Linked DNA regions of Homo sapiens. The protein of the gene in region 3 interacts with the protein of the main gene of each other region in a pairwise test. Each region holds a gene or a part of one and is shown on either strand. Other genes may lie near its edges.

Region 1 (7,034 bases), on a different chromosome or scaffold from region 3:
GCTGCTACATTCTGGCTGTTTTGTAACCAGGAAAAATGTGTATTGTACCACTTAGCTAGTAAAAGAAAAGAATATGAGCAGGAACAATGAGTGTACTGATGGAGCTTACACTATATTTTGGTCAACATCATTTAAAAAGGTCAAAAAAGTAGCAGAACACTTATTTCAACAGACTACCTATTACTAGAAAAAGCTATAGAAACAGATACATCCCAAAAGTAATAGCGACGCTCTTGCTTAAAATAAGATAAAATGAAAATTACACAAATAATTCAATATTGTGTAATTCAAATATCTCAAACCAAATTATAAACGTTCTAAAAGAGCCCAGAGATCATGTGAATAAACTGCATAGGAGAGATGGTACATTATAGAGGTCACAGACATATACCTTGGGAATCAGTCAGACTGACCAAATCCTCCTTTCTCTACTTAATAGCCATATGCCCTTTGATAAAATTATTCAACCTCCACAACCTCCAATTCAACCTGTTTCATTATATATAAAATGGAGGTCCCACTAATGTATTTTCCAGATTCTAACAAGCCCTTGAAAAGATATATATAAACATTTCGAGAATCAGGATGAGTCTGACGATAGATTTTAAAGAAACTGGACAGCCAGAAATCAGAGAAATAATCTGTGGTAGATTTAGCTTTGCCTGAGTATGTGCAAATTGAGCTTTAAGTTGTTTACTCTGGTGGTAACATACTTAAACTTTAACTTAATTCTTTTTTTTTTTTTTTTTTTTTTTGAGACAGAGTCTCCCTGTGTTGCCCAGGCTGGAGCACAGTGGCACAATCTTGGCTCACTGCAACCTCCACCTCTGAGGTTCAAGCGATTCTCCTGTCTCAGCCTCCCGAGTAGCTGGGATTACAGGCATACGCCACCACATCCGGCTAATGTTTGTATTTTTAGTAGAGATGGAGTTTCACCATGTTGGCCAGGCTTGTCTTGAACTCCTGACCCCAAATGATCCACCCACCTCGGCCTCCCAAAGTGCTGGGATTACAGGTGTGAGCCACTGAGCCCACCCATTACTTCTTTTTTTTTTTTGAGATGGAGTCTTGCTCTGTCACCCAGGCTGGGGTGCAGTGGCACAATCTCGGCTCACTGCAACCTCTGCCTCCCAGGTTCAAGCCATTCTCCTGCCTCAGCCTCCCCAGTAGCTGGGATTACAGGGGCACACCACCACACCCAGCTAATTTTTGTGTTTTTAGTAGAGACAGGGTTTCAGAAACATGTTGGCCAAGCTGGTCTTGAACTCCTGACCTCGTAACCTGCCCACCTCAGCCTCCCAAAGTACTGGTATTACAGGAGTGAGCCTGCGCTCCCGGCACTTCTTTTTAAGTAAGCTTTTAAAATATCTTCAAAAAGATTCCACTATGGGCCGGGTGCAGTGGCTCACACCTGTAACCTCAGCACTCTGAGAGGCCGAGATGGACAGATCAGAAGTTCGAGGCCAGCCTGGCCAACATGGCGAAACCCCATCTCTACTAAAAATACAAAAATTGGCTGAGAGTGGTGGCGTGTGCCTGTAATCCCAGCTACTCAGGAGGCTGAGGCAGGAGAATCGCTTGAACCCAGGAGGCGGAGGCTTCAGTGAGCCAAGATCACGTCACTGCACTCCAGCCTGGGGTGACAGAGTGAGACCCTGTCTCCAAAAAAAGATTCCACTGTGATGTCATATTGAAATGAAAAATTATTGTGCTCATAGAAGATTTTAAGTCACATGCAATAAAAACTAACTGAAATTACTAATTCTCTCAGACTAGACCAAAACATTTTCAAAGGTTAAGAGAAGTTAGAGAAATTGGTGTGGCCATTTCATGGAGTCACACATTTAAATGTCAAAATTTCCAGCTGACTTAGAAGAAAAGCCGTTTTACTTTCAGATATATGTGTTTTTGTTTTCGTTTTTGTTTTTTTGTTTTTGAGACAAGGTCTTGGTCTGTCACCCACGCTGGAGTATAGTGGCGCGATCACAGCTCACTGCTACCTCTGCTTCCAAGGCTCAAGTGATCCTCCCACCTCAGCCTCCCAAGTAGCTGTGAACACAGGCACCTGCCACCATGCCCAGCTAATTTTTTCTGTAGAGACAGGATTTTGCCACGTTGTCCAGGCTGGTTTTGAACTTCTGAACTCAAGTGATCTGCCACCCTTAGCCTCCCAAAGTACTAGAATTATAGGCATGAGCCACCACACCCGGCCAGAGGTAAGTTATTTAATTAAAGAAAAGAAATTTACAAGTTTAACCAAATAGAAACCACCAATGAAATCAGTTTTCTTTGCTATGCTTCTGCAATTACATAAGTATTAAATAGATCCAGGCATAGGTTATAAAAGCAGCATGTTAGTATGATGATGCATATAACTGCTAATGGCCAAAAGTGATTCATACAAATCTTAAGACTCCCAAATATAAAGGCTTGGATTCAAACTTAGATTATAATGCTACAGAAGCTAAAGAATGGATAAATGTTATTTTCAAAAAGAGGCTGGGCACAGTGGCTCATGCCTGTAATCCTAGCACCTTGGGAGGCCGAGGAAGGCAGATCACTGAGGTGAGGAGTTCGAGACCAGCTTGGCCAACATGGTGAAACCCCGTCCCTACTAAAAATACAAAAAATAGCTGGGTGTGGTGGTGCATGCCTGTAATCCCAGCTACTGGGGAGGCTGAGGCAGGAGAACTGCTTGAACCTGGGAGATGGAGGCTGCAGTGAGCCAAAACTGTACCACTGTACTCCAGCCTGTGTGACAAAATGAGACTCCATGTCAAAAAAAAAAAAAAAGAAAGAGAAAAGAAAAGAAAAAGAGAAAAGAAAAAGGTAGCATTCCCCCAACTCCTCCAAGTCAAGAATATTACAGTAATATCCACCTTAAAGCTTTCTGGTGAGGAATAAATGAGATTATAAGTAAAATATTTATCACAGTGCCTAGCAGAGAGAGTAAGCATTTGATGAAATGTTGTTATTATTGATCAAATTTTGAAAAAACACTAATTTAAAAAATGAATGACAAATTATTCTTTGCTTTTATAAGCACTGAACCAAATATAATGGCTTAAGCTACAGAAAAATATTTTCTTGGAATTTAAAAAATTTCCTAATTAAATTTTACCGACATAATAATTACATCAAGAAGTATTTTGGTTAAGTATAAAGGTAAATCTTGTATAAACCAAATGTTCATGAATACTGTTTGTCATCATTTAACAACAGGTAACCCTTTCATTTCTTTTTGAGACAGAGTTTTGCTCTTGTTGCCCAGGCTGGAGTGCAATGGCGTGATCTCGGCTCACCGCAACCTCCACCTCCCGGGTTCAAGCCATTCTCCTGCCTCAGCCTCCCGAGTAGCTGGGATTACAGGCATGGGCCACTACGCCTGGCTAATTTTGTATTTTTAGCAGAGACGGGATTTCTCCATATTGGTCAGGCTGGTCTCGAACTCCTGACCTCAGGTGATCCACCCGCCTCAGCCTCCCAAAGTGCTGGGCTTACAGGAGCAAGCCACCGCACCCAGCCAGGTAACCCTTTAACAGTGGTTTCTGTATACTATTTCCTAGTTCTATCAGTCATTAAGATTTTATAACACTCTAGTAGAGCTGCTAAAAATTAAAATTTATGAAAAAAGTGTTTTTTGGTTTTGGGTTTTTTTTTTGAGGCAGGGTCTCATTCAGTCGCCTAGGCTGGAATGCAGTGGCATGATCTTGGCTCATGGCAACCTCTGCCTCCCAGGTTCAAGCGATCCTCTGACCTCAGCCTCCTGAGCAGCTGGGACCACAGGAGTGGACCACCACACCTGACTAATTTTTATATTTTTTGGTAGAGATAGGGTTTCACCATGTTGCCCAGGGTTCTGGGCTCAAGCAATCCACCTATCTTGGCCTCTCAAAGTGTTAGGATTACAGGTGTGAGCTACCATGCCCAGCCAAAGTGAGTTGTTTAAACAAAAAGTCACAAACTAGTAAATCAAGAGCCAAATTAGAGACAGGGACATTTTTTTCTGTGAGCCACACAAGTTTTGTTTTTCAATTAGTTACCAAGATTTAATGTTCTTTTAAAATCCAGATTCACAGCTTCCTATTAAAAAACAGAATTTGGGAATACTGGACTGATGACTATAATCAGCTAGAGTTGAGTCACAGATGCCTCCCTGCCCTTGCCCCATTCTTCAGCCGGGTGTAATCTCAATCCTGCCCACTTTAGCCTTTTATTGTCTTCCTGGCCTTTGTAAATATTTGAATCTGCAACTGTTTTTGGTTTTTTTTTTTTTTTTTTTTTTTTGAGACAGAGTCTTGCTCTATCACCCAGGCTGGAGTGCAGTGGCACAAACTCAGCTCACTGCAGCCTTCACCTCCCGGGTTCAAGCAATCCTCCTGCCTCAGCCTCCCGAGTAGCTGGGATTACAGGCCATGTGCCACCACGCCTGGCTAATTTTCTGTATTTTTAGTAGAAACAGAGTTTCACTATGTTGTCCAGGCTGGTCTCAAACTCCTGAGCTCAGGCAATCCACCCGCCTCGCCCTCCCAAAGTGCTAGGATTACAGGTGTGAGCCACGGCACCCAGCCTGAATCTGCAATTTTAATGTACACATTAGACTCGTTTTTCTAACCTGGAGTTTCTGAAGAATTGGACAATGGAGCAGATGCTTCAGCTAAGGCAGCTAATGTAGCTAATACTGATGTAGAAGAGTTTCCAAACTGAACAGCAGATACACCCGTTTCATCTGTAAGAAAAAAGAAAATAGATTTGAATTTCTAAGGAGCTTAATCCAATGCATATTTCTGATATTCTATTTATCTTACTGACTCTTAAACAAAGCTTGGATAGCATTAGCTTTTGAAAGGTAATACTGCAGTAAATTTTGTAATATCACCTTTCTTCAGATTGTTTTGTCTCATAAAAATCTTTTTGCCAGTTATACCAAAGAAAACAAAGGTGGCTGATAGAATCTTACCCTCATTCTCCAACCGTCCTTTCTTACAAGGATGAATACCTACTAAAGCATAAAATCCCAAAGCCTATCCTATATGCATCTCAATACCTGTTGCCTTGGATGAATTTTCTGAAGATACCAGACCTGTTAGGTTCACCACCCCTCCAGGTCCAATGATAAACTGTGGTGTTGCAGCATGTATTGTCACAGTGTCAGGACTCTCTGGGTTTGTGTTGATTTGGTTCTGCATAGCAATCTAGGGAAAAAATGACCACAGTGTTTTCAGAATTATAACCAGAACATATAGCACAAATTCTCCATATAATACAAACACATATAAAGGAGTATTCTCTAAGAAGAATCACATAGTACAAGTGGAAATATTTGTCTAAGGTCCACTGACAGTGTAGGGGCACATCATGGGTATATATTTATATCCCAAGTCCCCCTCTTAGGTAAAGCAGCAAAATCCTGGGAGAGGAGAAACGAGTATCTAAAAGGTTTTTAACAGAACACAGAACAACTGGACATTAAGCTGGCTGAGGTGGCAGGTGCCTGTAATCCCAGCTATTCAGGGGGCTGAGGCAGAAGGAGTGGTTAAGCCCAGGAGTTCAAGACCAGCATGGGCAACATAGTGAGACCCCCATCTCAAAAAACAAAAACAAAAACAAAACAAACAAAAAATATTTCTGCCCTGTAGCTATAGGAATTTAATTATTTCTTCTACGTTTGGCAATACATAATACCACATATATAAAGCATGTCCTTCTCAATTAATTGTTCCCCATCTTCAACTCCAACCCCCAAACTGCACTCTTAGGAGTAAAAGGAATGAAAAGAGGCATGGTAGAATTCATTTTCCTGAACATAAAACATCTTTTAAGTAACTAGTGGAAGCTCAAAGGAGTCAGATAGTCTTAGAAAAGAAGAGTTCTACTGCTGGGATTGGGAACAAACAGGCAAGAAGAGGCAGTAATTAAAGAAGATAATTTATATTATGTCATCTGGCTGAAAATAAGAGAAGTAATGTTGGTTACTAGAAAAATCTTCCCAAAAGCCAAAAACAACAGATATTTTTGAGGATGCTGAAAGATAAAAGAAACAAATCAAACTGCATCACTCACTCAAGGAATGATATTATGGTTGCTAATATATATGTTTTTTAATTTTTATAAAGTCATTTATAGTAGACTTGGAAAAACCATATAGTATCAAAATGCAACAAAAATAATAGAATAAAATGTCTAGGGCCAGGCGCAGTGGCTCACGCCTGTAATCCCAGCACTTTGGGAGGCCGAGGCAGGCAGATCGCCTGAGCTCAAGAGTTCAACACCAGCCTGGGCAACATGATGAAACACCATCTCTACTTAAAACACAAAAAATTAGCCAGGCATGGCAGCATGCACCTGTAGTCCCAGCTATTTGAGAGGCTGGGGCAGGAGAATTGCTTGAACCCAGGAGGCAGAAGTTGCAGTGAGCCAAGATCGTGCCACTACACTCCAGCCTGGGGGACAGATCAAGACTCTGGCTCAAAAAAAAAAAAAAAAAAAAAAAAAAGGTCTAAAGGGAAATTCAGAAACTTAAAAAACAGAAAGTAATCACCTTATCTAATGTTAATGAAGAGACTGGCCTTATAATCAAGAAAATGAATAGTAATAAACAAAGAGGAAGTGAAAGAGAAAAAGGCCTATCCAAAATAACTAAGTCCAAAATGAAAGGCTACAAACAATAGTTTAAATCATGCACAATATAAGAGATCCCTCTACTGATAAGGCTTCTTTTTCTTTATTTTCTTAAATTAAAAGCCAAAAGTTACCTGTAATATCTCTGCTAAATCTTCATTTCCATTGTCTATTGAAATATCAAATGCAGTTTTACAAAATTTACTTTGCGTGTGTACATCAGCACCATATTTGATTAAAAGTTCCACCACCTCTTGATGATTGTGTTCTGTGGCCCAATGGAGAGCTGTCATCTTTAACATGTCCTTTGCATTGACATCAGCACCATGCTACAAAAATATTTCAAAGAGTTTACTAAAATATGAAATATCACATAAAAAATTCCTGATATGAAATTATTAGTTCTGTGCTTT
Region 2 (7,034 bases), on a different chromosome or scaffold from region 3:
ACTGGCTCTCTCTGGATGGAATTTCCATAGGAATTATTTCTAACAATTTCTGCTGTGAAACATGGTGCTAAGAAATGACTCAGGAAGATCTGTCACCAGACATTTGAAATTAAAGCAAAGAGTTCAGAAAGATGCCTTACCTCTTACTCAAAGGAAAGATACTTACAGATATACCATCCATTGGAATCTCTGTATTTTCACAATCTAACCCAGGGCTTCGATGGATGGATGGATGGATGGATGGATGGATGGATGGATGGATGGATGGGCGGGTGCATAGATGGATGGGTGGGTGGATGGATGGATGGATGTGGTAGTCAAATGGGTAAGTGCGTAGGTGGGAAAGTAGATGGGCAGATGATGGAGGTGATGGAAGGAATAAGTGAACAGGTAAATGGAAGACAAGACTGGATGGGACTAAACTCTTTTTCATCCTGGAGGATCTCTGAGTCTCCCTCTAATTCAATACCTATCTCCAATATCCCTCCATTCTCTACCATTCCTCCACCCAAAACACACTTATGTCCATGTTAATCATCTGAGAAATTCTGCAGGGCACAAGTTTAAAGAGCCTTCAGGCAAGCCCTGAACTGGAGGCTTGGAAATCAAGGGCTCAGGCACTTGGTTATCTGGTTTATTTCACAATCTGCAGAGCATCGTGCGGGTTTTTCTAAACCTGACGCTCTGAGCCCCATGGGCCTGTGGACTTGCAAACACCCTGAACTATCAATATGCTCAGCTGGGCCCCTGCCCTCTAAGTTGCTGTAAGTCCCAACTCCCCAGGAAGAGGGCAGACTGAGCTCAAACCATTCCTCAGAAAGGCAGAACCATGCTCAGCCTTCCAACCTCATCTGCACACTCTGAAGGTGGTGCATGCAGCTCCAGGAAGCCTTTGCTTCAGTGTTCTTTCCCCTCCTAACTTTGGGTGAGTTTGTCCCTTCCTGCTGCTGGTGGGTGATGCTGGAAGGAGCTGGGTGTGGCTGGGGCTGCTGTCTGCAGTCAGATGGCACAGACAGGGACAGGAAAGGTTTTGTGGCTTCTCCCCACAAGCTCTGGCTCTGGCTACTCCACCCTGTTGGCCAAGGGGCTGAAGGGCAGAGCACTGGCCTGCAAGGGCTGAGCAGATCTCCGTGCCCAGGGAAGGGGCTCACCCTGTCAGGGCGGGCTACCAGATGGGCTGGGAGCCTGCTCTGCCCTCCCTGTCCCTGCCTGCTTTGAGCAGGCCTGGTTCTCTTGCAGATTGAACAGGAGGGTGTCACAGTGAAGAGCAGCTCCCACTTCAACCCAGACCCTGATGCAGAGACCCTCTACAAAGCCATGAAGGGGATCGGTGAGTGGGTGTTGGCAGCCTTGCCACCTCTGCTCAAGACCCCTCCGCTCACAGCCCTGGAAAGCGGGTGCCAGGGGACATCTGGGGAGCTGGGGTGTCCCATGATACTCTGAAACTGATTCCACTACCCAGAGAATCACACAGCCCTCTGTTTCTGCAGTGAGGTCAGCACCCACCCTGCAAGACTGGACAGGAGGGTGCTGCTCTTCCCTGGGTAATGGGGGTGGGGAGGTGAGCTGTGTGTCTCTGTGAGTGACTTCCCATCAGTCTCAGCTTTCTCACTTGTAAAGTGGCCCCAAGAATTCTTGGCCTTGTGTGTCACATGAAGTGTGAAGGGGGTGGTGCTTTATGATGCCAGGCACAGAGCTGCCAGGGGTGTGAGGTGTTGGGAGTTTGTGGGGCTGATTCAAGGCCCCCTTGCCCCATGTCGATGGCCATGGAGCCGGCTCCCTTCCCATCTCCTGCACTTGCCCAGTGCTGCCCTCAGCACTACCGTGAGTGGGCGAGGGCTGGCCTGAGGCCAGATTTAAACAGCTTGCCCAGAAAGCCCTCCTGACCTGAGAGCAGAGCATGTACCCTGACCTCACCCCAGGTGGGACTGACCCCTTAGCCGGCTCTGCCTGAGGATCAGGGGCCTTAATGAGAACTGCCGCTCCTGACAAGCCCAGAAAACGTTCTCATGCCCTCTGCTTTCTGTGAAGCAGAAAGTTATCTCCACTTCCCAAATGAGAAAACGGAGGCCCAGGGAAATGAGGCTGGCTGCCCAATGCCACGCAGTTGCTGGGCCAGGCCTCGGATTCAGGGGTTGGACTCTTAGTCTTGACCTTCCCCTACTGCGACCAACACAAAGGAGGGCAGGGCCAGAGATCTCACTCGGCCAAGCTCCAAAGGCCCGGGCTGATGTCCAGAGCCACCCAGACCTCAGATTCCATCTTGTGAGGCTGGCCTTGGGCACGCCCCAACATTGTGGGGGTGTGGGGTGGGAAATGGGGAGGCAGATTTCCTAAGGGTCTTGTTTACACCACGAAAATGGTCTGGGGGTTTGGAACTATCCAGGTGTCGGGTCCCAACTGCTCAGCCACCAAGCAGCTGCCTTCGCCTTCCCCTCCTCCGCCCTCACCAGTGTGTCACCCTGGGGGCAGCAGGGTCACTTGTGCTGTAACCCTGCAGGGACCAACGAGCAGGCTATCATCGATGTGCTCACCAAGAGAAGCAACACGCAGCGGCAGCAGATCGCCAAGTCCTTCAAGGCTCAGTTCGGCAAGGCAAGGGGAAGGCTGGTGGGGGTGGGGATAGGTGAGCCTTGGGGTTGGGGGTACAGCCTGGGAGGCAGCTCCATTCTGGACGACTTTCCCCTAGAGCCAGCCCACTGGCAGCATGGGCACATGGAACATGTTTGCATGAAAACAATTGTTCTTTATTGAAATTCAAATGTAACTGGCTGCCCTGTGTTTTATCTGGCAGATCTACTTTTAGGTGTCAGAGCCCGGGCCGGGGGCTGGCCTTCCTTGCTTCCTTTCCTGCCTCCTCTCTCACAGCATTCCTTCTCATGCACCCAACAGGCCCCACTGGAGGTCTGTCTCCCTGCCCCCAGGCTATCTCGCCCTGCCCTCTGAGCCCAGACCACCTTCTCTTTTCCATGCCCCAGGCATGCAGGCCTGGCTTTGCTCTGTTCTGGGGCGTGGGCATGCTTTCCTCAGTCGAGCTGCTTGCACCCACACCTCGTCCCTTCTGCCACCTGGGAATTCTAAGAGCCTGGAGTAAGCATGCCAGGCCCTTTGTTTCTCCTCCCACCTGCACTCCACCCCTAGGACAAAGCCTGACATTTGGGGGTACACAGTAAACACAGGATTAAATATGTGCACAGCCATGGTTGCCTCAAGCCTCTAGTGACTCATATCATTAGTTTGGAGATGTAACGAAGGAAGATCAGCTCAAATATTCTCTTGGAGAACCCAGTATGCATTTTTACAGTTTCCCTCTCTTAGTCCTCACAGTGATACATTCTTTGTATTCAAACATTTGGGGAAACTGGCACTCAGAGAGGTTTTAAGTTGCCCAAGGTCCCAGAGCCTGTAATCAACAAGGTGGGGATTAAAATCCAGGTCTGACAAAGCCCTTGATCTCTCTGCTGCTCTGTAGATCAGCTGATGTAGCCTGGTGGCTCCTCGTAGCAACATGTGACCTTAGAAGGAGGCACATGTGAGACGAAGTCTTTAATTCAGGCATGCATTCATTCATTGAGTGCCAAGTGACAGGTATTTTATGGTGATGCCATACTCAGAGCTTGCAGTCTAGCTAGCAATACCAATTTCATTTTACTGAGAGCTTATGATGTGCCCAGCACTGCACTGAATGCTGAATTGAGTCACACACAACCCCCTAAGCAACGGGATGAAGCAGGAGCACGTTTCTCTCCGTGTAACCGGTAAAGATACTGATGCTAAGAGAAGCTAAGGAGCTGGCCCAAGAAACCCAGCCAGCACGTGGCAAGGCCCACGCAGAATCCAGCCCAAGCCCCTGGACCCAGCCACCACTCCGCTGCCTGCACTCAGGTGGGCCTGGCTTATGACAAATATCACCTTTCCCTGTTCCCGCATTAGGACCTCACTGAGACCTTGAAGTCTGAGCTCAGTGGCAAGTTTGAGAGGCTCATTGTGGCCCTTATGTACCCGCCATACAGATACGAAGCCAAGGAGCTGCATGACGCCATGAAGGTAACCAGGCAGACAGGGCAGGGGAGTGGCAGGGGTGCTCACATGACTGGGTAGGGGCAATGCGGGGACCGGGAACCTACAGCCCAGAGCTCCCCTTGAGCCACTGTTTGGAATGGCCATATGGGCCATAACTGGGCCCAGTGAGCAGGCAGCCTGCTGCTCAGACTGCACCCAACACCTGGAGTCACTGGTGCCTGATTGACACGTTGAGTGGCCGTGATGAAGCCAAAATCAGTACTTCTCAGAACCTCACGAGCTCAGGTGTACAGTGGTATTGGAAACCCACCTCTACAGTCCCAGGCACAGCCCCTTGGGTTTCCCTTTACCTCTCACTACTCTTTGCTTTTGCAGATTAATAAGGATGGGGACCCAGTAACTATAGTCATTTTGTTTGGAAAGACACTTGCTGCATGGGCACTGCCAGGCATTTTACACCCACGCTCCCTAATCTATCTTTGGCGCAGGGGAGGCTTCTTATTCCTGTTTATGGATCGGGATGCTTAGGCTCCAGGACATGGAGCAGCCTGTCTGAGACCACCCAGCTAAGGAGGGAGAGCTGAGACAGGGCTTCCCCGTCACAGCACTTGCCCTCAATGTTCATCACTGAAGCATGTGATTTTCTCATCACATCCTCCCACTTCAAGTGGGGCAGGGCAGTGAGGTCCTTCCTGAGGCTCAGGCATCTTGAGAAAAGAAGGTGTGGACAGAGCAGAAGGTCATGGCAGAGCACTCCAGCAGGCAGAGGTTTCTGTCCACAGGGCTTAGGAACCAAGGAGGGTGTCATCATTGAGATCCTGGCCTCTCGGACCAAGAACCAGCTGCGGGAGATAATGAAGGCGTATGAGGAAGGTAAGGGGTGGCACAGATGGAGGGGCTCAGGAGTGGCCACAAGCTTTGGCAGCCTGGCAGGGAACAAGGATCAAGAATTAACCTGGGCCACACTAGAAAGGACCCTTTGGGGACTTTTTTACCCACAGGTGCTGAGCACCTACCGTATGCCAAGATCTGTGCCTGATGGTGACACTGAACATGATTCAGACTTGATCTGTAAGCTCACCAGCTCCTCTTACAGGGGAGAGAGGCCTGTGACCAACTAAAATCTCTGCCCTTGAGGACTGTGGTAGTAGGGGGTGTGGACCCCAGGCTAGCAGAGGCCAGTCAGTCCTCCACATCATGTACCTAGTGGGGAGTTTTCCTGGAGGCTTTGGCTTTGCCAAGCCTTGAGATGAAATGGAGCTTGGTTGGCAGCCCCTAGCCTGGCTCTCTGACCTGGTCCATCTTGTGCTTTGAGCTTGGTTGGGTACGCATGTCGCTTCTAGTTGTGAAGCACCACCCAGGCGACAGCCACTTGGACACCCGGGCATTGCATCCATGCCCTGTGCCAAGGACTTTCTTTCCTAGAAGGCTTTAATAAGGAGAAGTATGGGGAACAGGGCTGGAAGGAGGAAAGCAGGCCCCGGGTAGGCTGTGGGCCTCTGCTTGTGCCTCATGGTCCTGTTTCCCTGCAGACTATGGGTCCAGCCTGGAGGAGGACATCCAAGCAGACACAAGTGGCTACCTGGAGAGGATCCTGGTGTGCCTCCTGCAGGTGTCACAGCCTAGGCTCTTGGGAGTGCCTTGGTTTGGGAGTCCCAACAGCTCCACCCCAGGGAGCAGCCCTTGAATAGCGCCACAAGAGTCAGGGTAGGGGCATGGGATAGCCCAGCAGCCAGGGCTCATTGGGTGTGTCTCAGCATGGTTAGAGGGTCCCAACTGCAGAGCCCCCACACCTGTCCTTACTCAGCCATGTGAGAGCATCCTGGAAGCGGGAGGAGAGCAGGTCCTTCGTGCAGGCCTCATGCCAGGCACTTTGCTTACCTTAGCTCACTGAATCCGCCAAGCCTTATGAGGCAGTCCTTACCACCCCCATTGTACAAATGAGGAAACCAAGGGCTGAAGAGAATAACTGGCTTGTCGAAGTTTCCACAGCCAAAGAGCAGCAGAGCCATGCCTGCCCTCCAAGCCCAGGATCCCCCCTGTGCCCTTAATGCTCTGGTCAGCTGGCCTGCCTTACAGAGCCACCTCCTCTGTTCCTAGGGCAGCAGGGATGATGTGAGCAGCTTTGTGGACCCAGGACTGGCCCTCCAAGACGCACAGGTGAGGCTGCGCCCAGCCGGCCATGTGGCCCCACCCCCTGCCATCTGGACTCCGGCTCCTCTGCCCACGGGGGCTTTCTCTGACACTGGGCTGGGACCCACCCAGCTCAGCTCCCTATAGGCCTTTGTCCTGTGGTGTCTGGGGAGGAGAGTGAGGGTGTTGGGAGACTCGGGAGGAAGGAGTGTGACTTGGGGGTGGGGGAGCACTAAAGCTCTGTCCTGGCAGGAACAGCCCATGAACCCGGGGGCGCTAGGCCCCAGTGCTGGACACAGGTGTCCGGGTCTCTGTAGGTCTGCCTGCTGGCAGAGGGAAGTCTGGGGACCAGGCAGTTCCTAGAGCAGCTTGTGGCCCAGGATAGAGAAAATATTCTAAGCCAGAGCTGCTAGAGAAAGGGGAGCTCCCTGTCAGAGACGACCAAGCAGGGGAGCATGCTGGCCTGGCAGAGTGGACAGGGCCAGGCCATGGCCACAGCTCTGGGACTCTGGGGCTCAGTCCCTCACCTCCCTGGTCTCCCTCACTGGCTTATTGTGGGTGTCCCAATGCTAGGATCTGTATGCGGCAGGCGAGAAGATTCGTGGGACTGATGAGATGAAATTCATCACCATCCTGTGCACGCGCAGTGCCACTCACCTGCTGAGAGGTACCAGGGAGGGAGGGGCTGGGGCCGGGGCCACAGGGGGTGTCCTGGCCATGAGCCTCTCCCTCGTGCTTCTGCCTTGTCAAGTCTAGAGTTAGGGAGAGAGCCAGGGAGCCCAGGACTGTTTCCCCAGCCACCAGTGGGAGGTCAGGGCGGCAAATTGATGTGCGATCTCTGATCCGAGACACTGAGGGGCATCACGAGGAGGTCTGAC
Region 3 (4,684 bases):
TCAGTTTGCCATCACCATGGCAACACTCAGGAGCCACTGCCCTTTTCCATGGCAAAGACCTGATGACCCGGAAATAACCACCCTTTCCCTAGAAATTTCTGCATAAACCAGCCCTTAATCTGCATGCAATTAAAAGTAGGTATAAATATGGTGCAGAACTGCCCTGAGCTGCTATTCTCTGCCTGGGGAGAAGCCCTGCTCTGCACGAGCAGTCATGGAGCTGTAGTCCTGCCCCTCCAATAAAGCTGTTTCTCTTGCCTCCAGCTTGCCCTTGAATTCTTTGCTGGGTGAAGCCAAGAGCCCTTGCAGGTTAAGCCCCAATCCGGGGCTTGCCTATCGTGTGTCACTCCCAGCCCCCTCCCTGGAGGTCCTGAGGGCAGAGCTGGACCTCCCTGCCACAGAGGCCCTGTGGTCACCCCGGGCCTGGCTGGAGCTGCTCACAGCTTCCCTGGCACCTGGCCGGTAAGATGCAGACCAGCCTCCTGCAGAGCTGTCACCACACAAACAGACCCACAGTGGGGAGAGCACCTTTATTGTCACATATAATAATAACGCTACAGGCTGGTGGTCCCGCCCGCCTCTGACCACCCCTCCATGAAGACAGAGACTGCCTCTCCAGACCTGCCTCAAGGGCCAGAAGAAGATCCCAGGGCCCAGAGGGACCAGGCCACAGCCAAACAGGAGTACCAAGAGCACTGGAGACAGTCACTCCTGCTGTGAAGACAGAGTGCCCCAGGGTGGCGCCAGCACCTTCAATTCTCTGAGTTTGCTGCCGTGGCTGTGTCCCAGGTCCCAGCCCAGCAAGAGAGGAACACCAGGGCTGAGCTGATCACGGAGACCCTGGCCCCAGAGGCCTTGAGGGCTCCAGTCAGAGCTGTTCTGGGCTGCTAGGGACCTGGTGCCTGCCATGGAGCCTGCCAGGCCCCCAACTCTGGAAGGTGGGAGGCAGGAGCATCTCTTCCCAGCAGGCCTGGGACTCTGTTTCCCTCTCTGCAGCTTGCAAAGGGGACACTGGGCTTGCTGTGTCATGCAAAAGTAGCAAACCTATAGAGTCCACTGAGAGACAAACTCGTGGGGCAGAGGCTGCAAGTCCCACCTCTGATAGACATGCCCATGAAATGCTGCCTCCCCTGGCTCAGGGATGGGATGGACCCAGAGAGAGCGGGTGGGCTCAGCAAGACTGGGAGGCAGTGGCCAGGGATGCCTATCTGGTTTGGTGGACACTTGCACCCCCAATGCTTCTCTCTCAAGGTCCTCAAGTCCGTATGGCTGGCAGTGATTTATTCAGGGTCTCCCTGGCCTCTGAGAGCTGCAGTCCAGGCTGCTCCCCCAGCCAGTGGGGAAGGGGGATGAGGAAGGGAAGCCCCAGGCCCTGCAGGACCCTGCCTACCCCCTCAGGCTGGCTGGCCCAGCCTCCCCGCAGCCCTGCCTGCCTTAAGGAGCCGTTCTGGCCCTGCGCCCTCCCTGTCTGAGTTTTCTCTCGAAGAGGGGAAGCTGGCAGGGTCGAGAGAACATGGCTTCAGGAACTGAGGGTCCTGGGTTCAAATCCTGCCCCTGCCACCCGTGATCTGGTGGCCAAGAGAGGGTTATTTCTACCGTCTGAGCCTCGGTCCCCTTGTGAAGTGGGGATAATAAGCTTACCTCCTAAGGGTTAAATAATGAGACAACGTAACGAAAGTTCCCTGGACAGGGCCAGTTACAGCAGGGACTCAATAAATGATGGGTATTAGGATTATTCTCATTCCCAGCACCCAGCCCACCCAGACCCCGTCTCCAGCCGGGAGTGGGGGTAGGGGAGGGGACAGGCCAGAGGAGGGCTCTGATGAGGGTGTTGGCCCCTCCAGACCCTGCCCCTGGAGACATTATCTGTCCCCAAAGCCCCCCATGTCCTCACAATCATCCATGCCTGGAGCCCAGTTCCCCTGGGGGCATCTTTAGGAAACAGCGGCGGCTCAGGCCTCTGGGGCTGGGTCTCTAGCCAGGACAGGGTGTCCTGGAGCAGTGGGCTCTCACTTCCTGCTGCTGGCCTGGTCCACGCTCTTCTGTCCAGGGTCGGGCCCAAGCAGGGCAGCAAGGACCCCATCGGGTTGGGCGCCACCCCTCTTCATCTTGAGGTTGGCTCTCAGGGCAGCATCCTGGCCAGAACCTCCCTCTGGGGAGGCCAGGGGATCTGGAAGGAGAGCAGGAGGGTGGACTCGAGGTAGAGCCTTAGGAACACTTGGGGGTACATTTGATCATGATATGTGGCCACGGAGAGATGCTCTTGCCCAGCGTGGAGAAGCAAGGCAGCAGCAGGCTTTCAGCCCCTTATGCATTCATTCATTCATGGATCCATGCATCCATCCATTCATTCACTCATTCACCCATCCACCTGTCCATTGACCCATTCATCCATCTGTGTATCCACCCATTCATCCATTCACCCATTCATCCACCCACTCAGTCACTCATTTATCTATGCATCTATCCATTCATTCACTCATTTACCTGCCCGTCCATCCATCCATCCATCCATCCATCCATCCATCCATCCATCCATCCATCCACCCATCCATCCACTCACTTATCCACCCACCCACCTATCCACTCATTGATTCATCTATGCATCTATCCATCCATCCATCCATCCATCCATCCATCCATCCACTCAGTCATTCATTTATCTATGCATCTATCCATTCATTCACTCATTTACCCATCCATCTATCATCCATCCATCCATCCATTCACTCACTTATTCACCCACCTACCTGTCCACTCACCCGCCCATCCACCCATTCATTCATTCATCCATGCATCTATTCACTCATTTACCCACCCACCTGCCCACTTATCCATCCACTCATTTATCCACCCACCTGTTCACTCATCCATCATCCATCCATCCATCCATTCACTCATTCACCCACCCACCTGTCCACTCATCCATCCATCCATCCATTTATCCATCTATCCATCCACCCATTCATTTATTCATCCATGCATCTACCCATCCACTCACTCATCCACCTATCCACCTGTCCATTCAACAATTCATTCATTCATTCATTCATCTATCTATGCATCCACCCATGCATACATTCATCCAGGCAACCAGCCATTCGTTCACTCACTCACTCACCCACCCACCTGTCCATTCACCTATTCATTCATCCATTCATTTTCCAGCAAATGCTGATGGGCCTCTACTCCAGGCCCTGCAGAGGTATCATTCACTGTTCTGCACAAGGGACTCCCAGAGGGTCACAGAAACCCCAGCATGGAATGGAAGCCTCCCCTATGTCACCATAGGGACAAAGAGGAGGGTTCAGAGAAGGCTTCACAGAGGCCGAGATCTTTGAGCAGGTCCCGAAGTGGCAGTCAGTGTTCACCAGGCAGAGGCATGGCCCGAGCAAAGGCATGGAGGTGGGAGGGGCCTCAACATGGCTGGGCAGGGCTCTGCCCACCATGGCTATACTAGGGAGGGGCTGGGAAACTGGGCTGATGCACTTGGAAGTCTGTCAAGGGCAGCAGGGAGCCACTGAGGGTCCTTGAGCAGGGGAGGGGGAGGGTCAGACTAGGGGCAAGGGAGGGAGACCAGAGACCCTAGGCAGCAGCCATGAGGGCAGCATTGGGAGAGGAAGGAGGGGAGAGAGATTCCCAGCCCGCTGATCCTGGTCACTGCTCACCGTGGATCCCAATCATGTGCTCCAGGATGAGGACTCGCTCTGCCAGGATCTTCAGGGCCTCTCTCAGCTGCTGCACCCCCTCGCCCTGGCGGGGAGGAAACAGGCAGGGTCAGGGCCGGCCATGAGGAAGGGGTCAGGGCCATCCTGATACAGTGACAGTGTATGTGTCCTCAAAGCCCCCCACCCCTGCCTCTTCCCACCCGACACCCTCACCACTGCAAATAAGCATAGACTGAACATCATCAACTATGTGCCAGACAGGGCTTCAAACCCTGTTCACAGACAAAGAGCTTGAAACACAGAGAGGGCAGGCAACCTCCCCACGGCCACACAGCCTGGCAAAGCGGCCGATCCAGACTGCAGATCCACACCTGTCAGCCTCCAGCCTGAGCTTTTCCTTCCACCATAGCTGCCTGTCAGCTTCCCCCACATGTCCTGAAAATACCCTAACCAGGACAGAGCACCTATCCCAGGGCCCGAAGGTAGGAAGTTCTTTGCTTGTTTCCTTCCTTGAATGCCCAAGAGCTCGCCACCAAACAGCAGGCAAGGGGCAGGGTAGGTGTGGCCATGCCAGGCAAGAAAGACAGCAGAGAAAGCCACCATTTCAAAGTGCAGGCAGGCAGGCTGGCGTGATGGCAGAGTCTGTATTTCAAGGGCCCGGTCTGCACACAAGCAGAGGACCTTGTGCACAGAGACACCTGAGTCAGCCAAGACAGGGTGCTGACTTATTGAGAAGGCAGGTGTCGAGGCCACTCTGAAAAGTGATGATGAGGAGACAAAGCCACTGTCCCCATCCTGCCCAGCCCTGGGAGTTGGCAGCAGAATGGGTGCCTTTTGCTGGTGTAACATGACAGATCTGTCTTATGTTCAGATTAATTTAGCTTAAAATGAAACAAAAGGAAACCAAAAAGCATCCTACTGGGTTATAGGAGAAAGGTCTGCCCACCAGGGGACCAAAGACAATGGGAAGTTGAGCCAATTACAGGGTCTGGGACAGGGATGTCAGTGTCGTGTCC
Region 4 (7,034 bases), about 22 Mb from region 3:
ACCCATTGAAATTTTATAAGAAGATTTACTTTTGCCACAGTTGCCAGCTTTATTTGCCTTCTACAGAATTTTCTGTATCATCCACCTCACGCCGCATATACCGGTGTCGTAACTGCATTAACCTTCAGAATGAGGCTCAAAAACGAGAATCATTTTTGAAGTACAAATGTTTACTTCAACAGCTCTACTATACAGAAGCTGATTATGAAGATGATTCTAAAATTGCTTTCTTGATGCAGGTATGGTCAATAAGGGGTGCCAATTATAGCTGAAGCTTGTCAAGGAGGCTATCTTGCAATCTTATGTATGTTTGTGTGTGTGTGTGTGATTGTTTAATGACTCTCTATTCCACTAGACTGTAAGCTCTGTGAGGGCAGGAGTATGCTTTTTTTCCCTCCTGCTCACCATTATACCTCTATAACCTAATACAGTACCAAGTTTTTATTTAAGGCCCTCAATATTTGTTGAATGAATGAATGACTTTTACAGAAACTGATGTTACATATACACATACTAGTGTTTACGAATAACAGTAATAATTAGTGTAAACCAAATGTGACCATAATGGTAAATAACACCAAAAGTGAAAGCTAAGGCTTATAGAAAGTAAAAAAAAAAAAAAACCTTAGGGAAAGGCTTTGATACTTGTCTATGTAAAGTGTTGATATGATACCACACAACTGGAAAGTTTCTGGCCAGAGTTCTTTTGGATGAATCATTGCATTGGATCATTGACCCTACGTAATCTGCTTCTCGTAAGAACTTCTAGCTCTGTGAGAGGGTGGAGCCTGTGAGATCAGGAATTCTGACCTGAATTCCTAACTTAACCACTACTTCGGTCTCTTTGGTTATTCCATGTCTTCTATTGGGTTTAGGCCAGAGGATAGTCTGTGTCTCTACAAAATAAAAACAAATTCCTGACACTGTTTGGACTTAGGTAAGCAAGTGAGAAAACAGAAGGACTTACTTGTTGTTGATATGGCTACCCAACATTAGCCACTTATTAATAAAAGTATATTATAGAGCACAATTGACCTCATTAATGATATTTGTGTTCACAGACTGTCAAATAAGGGCAAATTTTCTGTAAATTAGTTACTAATTAAAATGAACTAAATTGTATTTAATACCAAATAGGAAAGTAGGCACTACTATGAATAGAAAACTTTATAGAGATTAAAAAAAAGATACCAAATGTGATGTGCTTTGTTAAAAAATTCTTCTAAATCCATAGCTTTCAAACTTTTAAATCTCAATCTATAGTAAAAATGTATTTTTATGACAACCTGATATAGGCATGCATGATAATTCTCAATACTCAGTACCTATATGGCTTTACACACTTTATTGAGTTAATCAGCACAAAAATCCTATCAAAATAGGCATTATTTCCATTCTGCAGGTGAGGAAAGGGAAGCACTGAGTGGTTAACTAACTTGTCCAAGTTTACGCTACTAAGTACCAGCACCAGGATTGAAAACTAGGCAGTCTGATTCCCAGCATCCGTACATGTAAACACATGCTGTTCTGCCTCAGAAATAAAAGTTTCCAAAATAGTGTTTATCTTTACCCCTATGGATGTACTCTGATATTTTCTATTCAATCTCAGTCTACTTATTCTGATTTCCATTTGGAAAACTTTGGTATCACCCAAGAGGTAGCAACCCACAGTTTGAAAAGCACAAATTAAAATGATTACATATTTTGTCCAATAGAATGAATATTTTGTTAATAAATTTGATGTTTATTTCAGCTTAAATTCTTATTTGCTACTTTTATTCAGGAATTATTGACATGACAGATGTATATTTCCTTGTAGAGAATCTTAGATGTACTAGGGCTTTAATGTAAGTCACCAAGAAGTGCTGGCTCAATATTCCATGTTGTATTAGTCAGATTTCTCCTGAGAAACAGAACCAATAGAAAATGTTATACATATATGTTATATATATATACATATAAGGAGATTTGTTACAAGGAATTTGCTCACATAATTGTGGAGGCTGGTAAGTCTAAAACCTAAACAGCTGATGGCCCAGTTCAAGTCTGATGACCAGCAGGCTGCTATAGAGCCAGGAGGAGCCAGTGTCTCAATTCAATGGCCATTAGGCAGAAACAGTCTTCCTTACTTGGGGACAGGGTGAACTTTTTGTTCTATTCAGGCCTTCAACTGATTGGATAAAGCCCACTCACATTATGGAAGACACTCTGCTTTACTCAGTCTACTGACTTACTTAAATGTTAATCTCATCCAAAACTACCCTCACATAAACACCAGAATACCGTTTGACCAAATATCTGGGTATCCGGTGGCATCATCAAGTTGATGTAAAATCAACCATTACACATATTGAATGAAAAAATTCTAGGGGAGCATTGTAACCTTTCAGATAAGGATAATCTCCATTAGATGTGATTTAATTTCAGTACCGTATCTATGTAGGGTTTTGGTCTATTACTTTTCCAATGTCTAGGATTAGCAGACAAATATGAGTGTCCAGTAGCTTCCCCCCCCTTGTAATTGGTGTAGTTTTGATTAATATTTATTTCAGTAATAGTATTTGAGGCATAATTTGAATGTTTGAACATTCTCATAAATAGTAAATCTTGTGGACAACAGCAAAGATTAGCATATGTTAAATGTGAACATGATGCCATGTAAAATGAAAAGGTGAAAGTTAATATATATAAAAAGTAAACATTCTGCTTAGACAAGAGATTTGAGTGTTGTACTAGTCACCTCGTTTATCTGTAATGCATACAAATACTGCCTAATATAATAGGCAATAGTATTGCTCTGTTACTGCAAAAATTTCAAGTACAATGACTACTTGAAAGGTAGAAAGCTCTTAGAGACTGTCAACCACACTTATGTGCACATTTGACATTTACATGCAAATAAACACGTTATTCTGTATGATACAATTTCAAAATTATTAGTACAGTTGAGCAACTAAATTAAAAACAAAAATGTAAACAAGATGCATTTTGAATGTAAGTAAAATATATAAAACATTGAATTTTAAAGGTCTATAAATTTATTTTTCATAGCAGCTGTGTACAGAGTATTGTCTTTTTTAGCATTAAGTAAAAGCTAGAATGCATTAGTTGAGCTTAATATATTGAATTACCAATTTATGAAATACTGTTGTAGCTGATGATGACAGGTTCTTTTTGTTTTTTACTTTGGCAGATTGTTTAGGTTTTGTGTACTCATTTTACAGAAAATATTTCTGCTCTCACACTTTTTCACAGAAGCTTTTTTAAAAAATATTCTTTTTACATGCTTATACTTTGTTGAGTTTGTCCGTCTCTGGCAATTCTAAATTTATAATGCAGACCCCATGATAAAAAGTCATTCCAAGAGTTTTAGCTGATAAGATTTACGTTTTTTAAAAAGTTTTAAACAGCTATTTCATTACCCCTCTTTTTGATTAAAACAACCAAGTCTTTTAATTAACACTAAGTGAATTACTTATCTTTATTAAATCTCAACTTCCTGTGTTTGCTTCAGCAGCCCATATACTGAAATTGGAACCATATAGAGAAGATTAGCATGGCCCTTGGACAAGGATGACATGCAAACTTGTGAAGTGTTCCATATTAAAAAAAAAAAATCTCAGCTTCCTCATTTGTAAAATGGCAGTAAAAGGTTTTAAAAGGTCCCTACAATGGCCCTGAAATTAAGATGGTACTTACTAATGAATTTTAAAGATCATTCAATACCATATGTTTATTATGGTAACATTATAGTATTATTAAGATTATATTCAGGTAAAATTAGCATACTGAAATGAATTTATACTGCTTACTCTGGTTTAGAGATGGGGACGCAACTGTGAGACTGATAATGTAGTTTAGGCAAAATGAACAGAAGTTTAGTGAAAAATAAGGGGCTATGTGTCATTGAAACCTAGTGAATAATAATTCACTTAAAAATACTCTATAATTTAATTATTTGCTCAAGTAATATAATAATCTTAAACAAATTTAAACTACATTGTTTTTAAAACTTGCTTTGACATGCAGCTACAAGACATTCAGTACCTGACAGAGAACATCTGGGCGTCCCAGTCAGTCCTCAGTGCTTGCGACAATCTCAGTGATCTGGTCATGGTCAGATGGAATAAATCCCTGGAGTGGTCCCCCTGGAACTGCATTCTTCTTACCAAAGATGAAGCAGCTGCTCATCTCAAGCTAACAAGTATTGAAGAGGTAAGAAAGTTGAATTTTATTTGGGAAGTTAATTTAATCATTGGAATTATTAGCGATAACTGGACTGCCTTCTAATATATTCCATGCTTAAATACTTCCATCAGATTAAGAAACAGAACTTATGGATTAACAACAAAAAAATTTATGGATGGCATATATGGCACAGATTAAATAAAAGGTATATATAAGAGATTTGAACATATTACAAGTCCTAAACATCATACCAGTCTCTCCTAATAGTAAGTTTAAGCACATTCCACGGTAAATTCCATGAAGGCAGTGATTTTGTTTGGCTTATTTACATCTATTTCTCTAATACCTACAATACTGCCTGTCACAGAATGGAGTTTATAAGTATTTGTTGAATGAATAAATGTGCATTACCACCAGATAGGTATTATGGAACCCAGAATCTGTCCTTCTTTGATTAATTATCATGAGTCTGCTTAAAAACACCCAACTCTCAAATTTTGTTCATAATTTTGTGCTCTAAATAGCAATCATACTGATGGGGTGTAGTTCTGATGCTCCATTTTTCATTTGCTTCCAACTTGCTGGGAGTGGAGCAAGCACTGTAAACATTAAATGCCATTTACTGTAATTTTAGTAACTTACATGATGCAATCTGTAAAACATTTTGATGGGTAAGTTGAGGGACTCCTGAAGAGTTCGTAGAGAGCTCCATTTACACTAGGTCCAGGATCCCGAGAGTTAATACTGATTCTCTGCATTCTTTAATTCCACACAAGGTGTCAGCTAAAGGAAAGTAAAGAAATGACAAAATGCAGTAGTCGTTTAAAATAGTGTGATTCCCTGTTTGTTTTTTTTCAGTGGAACAAGGGGTGATGAATATAAAGATAAGAAACTAGCTAAAGTTTTAGTTTTTAAATATTTTTTTAGTTTTAAGAAGCCAGGCTAAGAAAAATTTCACTCTAGGGATTGAAAGAAAAGGTAGCAATAAGTTGAAGCTGTATTAAATGTTATATTTAGTAAACTAAGCTGCCTCATAAATATTTAATCACAGGAAGCATAGTCAATACTAGCAATATCATTTCATCTAGGACCCATGATGAGATTGAAGTTCATTCCCAAAGCTGATATTCCAGTGCTTCTTCAATTAATCCACACAACTCCCTTTGTGCATTTAATCAAATTACTGCAGTATCAAATTAAATGTTCTATTCACATGCATTTCTAATTTAGAATGCCAGTCTTATCGAATTTCTGTAAAGGGCACCAAGATTTGCAAGCAGACAAACTGGAAAAACATTTGCCTTTTTTATGGTTTTGGGCTGATACAATCTTTTAACTATTAACTTTCAGCCCAGTTAAAGAGTAGTTTATATCTTGCAGAAAGATGGAGCATTTTCAGAATTTTCTTAATGTTCAGAGATATTTGCTTTCTTAAGAAGTTAAAAAAATACTTGCAAGTTAATATGAAACAGGTATAGGAAACGTGGAAAAACACTTTCGTTAATGTGAACTTTAAGTGGAGCAGATTGATCTCTCCTTGTGTGCACACTGGCCAAAGTAGGAACAATCATGGACTTAAAATCAGTAATCCTGACCCAGTTAACTCAAATCTCTGTCACTGACAACTTTACATTAAAACCTTCCCTCTTTGCTTCATAAATTTTTAGAAAGATTAGCTAAATAAGTGGAATCAGTAAAGAGGATAAAAGCAGCTCTGGCTCTGAATTCTAGCTTTACCATTCATGAGCTGGGAGAAATTGGACAAATTTGTGAATGTCTCAATGACCCAGCTTTCTCGTCTATAAAAAAGAGATAATGGTATCTCATCATAGGGAAGCTTTGAGTAGGCCATTATTTAAAGCTTTCTGCATAGTTTTTTTTGGCATGAATAAACTTAGGTAGTAACTATGAAAGCACTTTAAAAATTTTTGATGCATTTTATTTTTAATTTTAAAGCAATATATTATTGGCTTAGAATCTGAACAGAATAAAAAATGTAATGTAGAAAGTAAAGGTCTCAGAGGTTGAGGGAACAGGGAGAGATTTGTTAAGGATACAAAAATTATAGCTAGATGGGAGGAGTGAGTTCTAGTACTGTTCTGTGGCACTGTAGGTTGTCTATAGTTAATTACAATATATGGTTTCAAATAGCTAGACGCAGCATATCGAATGTTCCCAGCACAAAGAAATGATAAATGTTTGAGATGAATATGCTAATTACTCTGATCATGATATATGTATCATCCCATCACTATGTACCCCGTAAATATGTACAATTATTATCAATTTAAAAAATTTAAAAAACGACTGAATGAATAAATAAAGGGAGGCAAATAGACAAATCTCCCATGTAGAATTCCAAATAATTTATGTAGATACTCTCCACTCTTAAGGAGATGGAGAATAACTCTCTACCCTTTAAATGTGGGCTGTACATAATAACTCCTTTCCAAAGACTATATTATGGATGGAAGGGGAGGACCTTTACAGTAGAGAAACTTGACAAACACTACCTCAGCCAGGTAATCAAGATTAACAGCAGCAGTGCTGTCATGCTGATGGTGTGTACCCTTGATATGATGTGAGGAGAAGGGCACTTCACCCCTGTGGTCTTCCTCCCCAAAACCCATCCCTTCAGTCTAATAATAATGAAGAAAACACAGGACAAACCCAGATTGAGACACATTCAGGAAAATGTGGGTGTGGGGTATATGGGACCTTTCTGTAATATTCTTAGAACTATTTGTACACCCAAAGAATTTGTGAACATAGTTTAAAACCATCACATGGCTATTTCAAGAGAATGGACCTTATTTCAATGGGAAAAAAGGTCTCTTGATGTCCAC

The links.
Region 1: the proteins of COL26A1 (region 3) and GABPB1 interact in binary tests that used the Homo sapiens proteins (3 or more experiments, as listed by UniProt).
Region 2: the proteins of COL26A1 (region 3) and ANXA8 interact in binary tests that used the Homo sapiens proteins (3 or more experiments, as listed by UniProt).
Region 4: the proteins of COL26A1 (region 3) and IQUB interact in binary tests that used the Homo sapiens proteins (3 or more experiments, as listed by UniProt).

What each region holds. Positions count from the first base shown.
Region 1 is NC_000015.10:50,296,174-50,303,207, forward strand, and holds part of GABPB1 (GA-binding protein subunit beta-1 isoform beta 2), read right to left. Parts: intron 6,951-7,034; coding exon 6,756-6,950; intron 5,196-6,755; coding exon 5,084-5,195; coding exon of another isoform or gene 5,048-5,083; intron 4,730-5,047; coding exon 4,616-4,729; intron 1-4,615.
Region 2 is NC_000010.11:47,474,094-47,481,127, reverse strand, and holds part of ANXA8 (annexin A8), read left to right. Parts: intron 1-1,239; coding exon 1,240-1,330; intron 1,331-2,386; coding exon of another isoform or gene 2,387-2,500; coding exon 2,501-2,595; exon of another isoform or gene 2,596-3,885; intron 3,886-3,933; coding exon 3,934-4,047; exon of another isoform or gene 4,048-4,048; intron 4,049-4,805; coding exon 4,806-4,896; intron 4,897-5,024; coding exon of another isoform or gene 5,025-5,062; exon of another isoform or gene 5,063-5,537; intron 5,538-5,555; coding exon 5,556-5,635; intron 5,636-6,123; coding exon 6,124-6,183; intron 6,184-6,729; coding exon 6,730-6,823; intron 6,824-7,034. UniProt on the Homo sapiens protein: This protein is an anticoagulant protein that acts as an indirect inhibitor of the thromboplastin-specific complex, which is involved in the blood coagulation cascade.
Region 3 is NC_000007.14:101,554,856-101,559,539, reverse strand, and holds the end of COL26A1 (collagen alpha-1(XXVI) chain isoform 1 precursor), read right to left. Parts: intron 3,754-4,684; coding exon 3,669-3,753; intron 2,171-3,668; coding exon 2,010-2,170; 3' UTR 516-2,009; downstream 1-515.
Region 4 is NC_000007.14:123,454,562-123,461,595, reverse strand, and holds part of IQUB (IQ motif and ubiquitin-like domain-containing protein), read left to right. Parts: coding exon 1-239; intron 240-4,029; coding exon 4,030-4,215; intron 4,216-4,319; coding exon of another isoform or gene 4,320-4,403; exon of another isoform or gene 4,404-7,034. UniProt on the Homo sapiens protein: Adapter protein that anchors the radial spoke 1 (RS1) complex to the A microtubule of outer doublet microtubules in axonemes. The triple radial spokes (RS1, RS2 and RS3) are required to modulate beating of the sperm flagellum.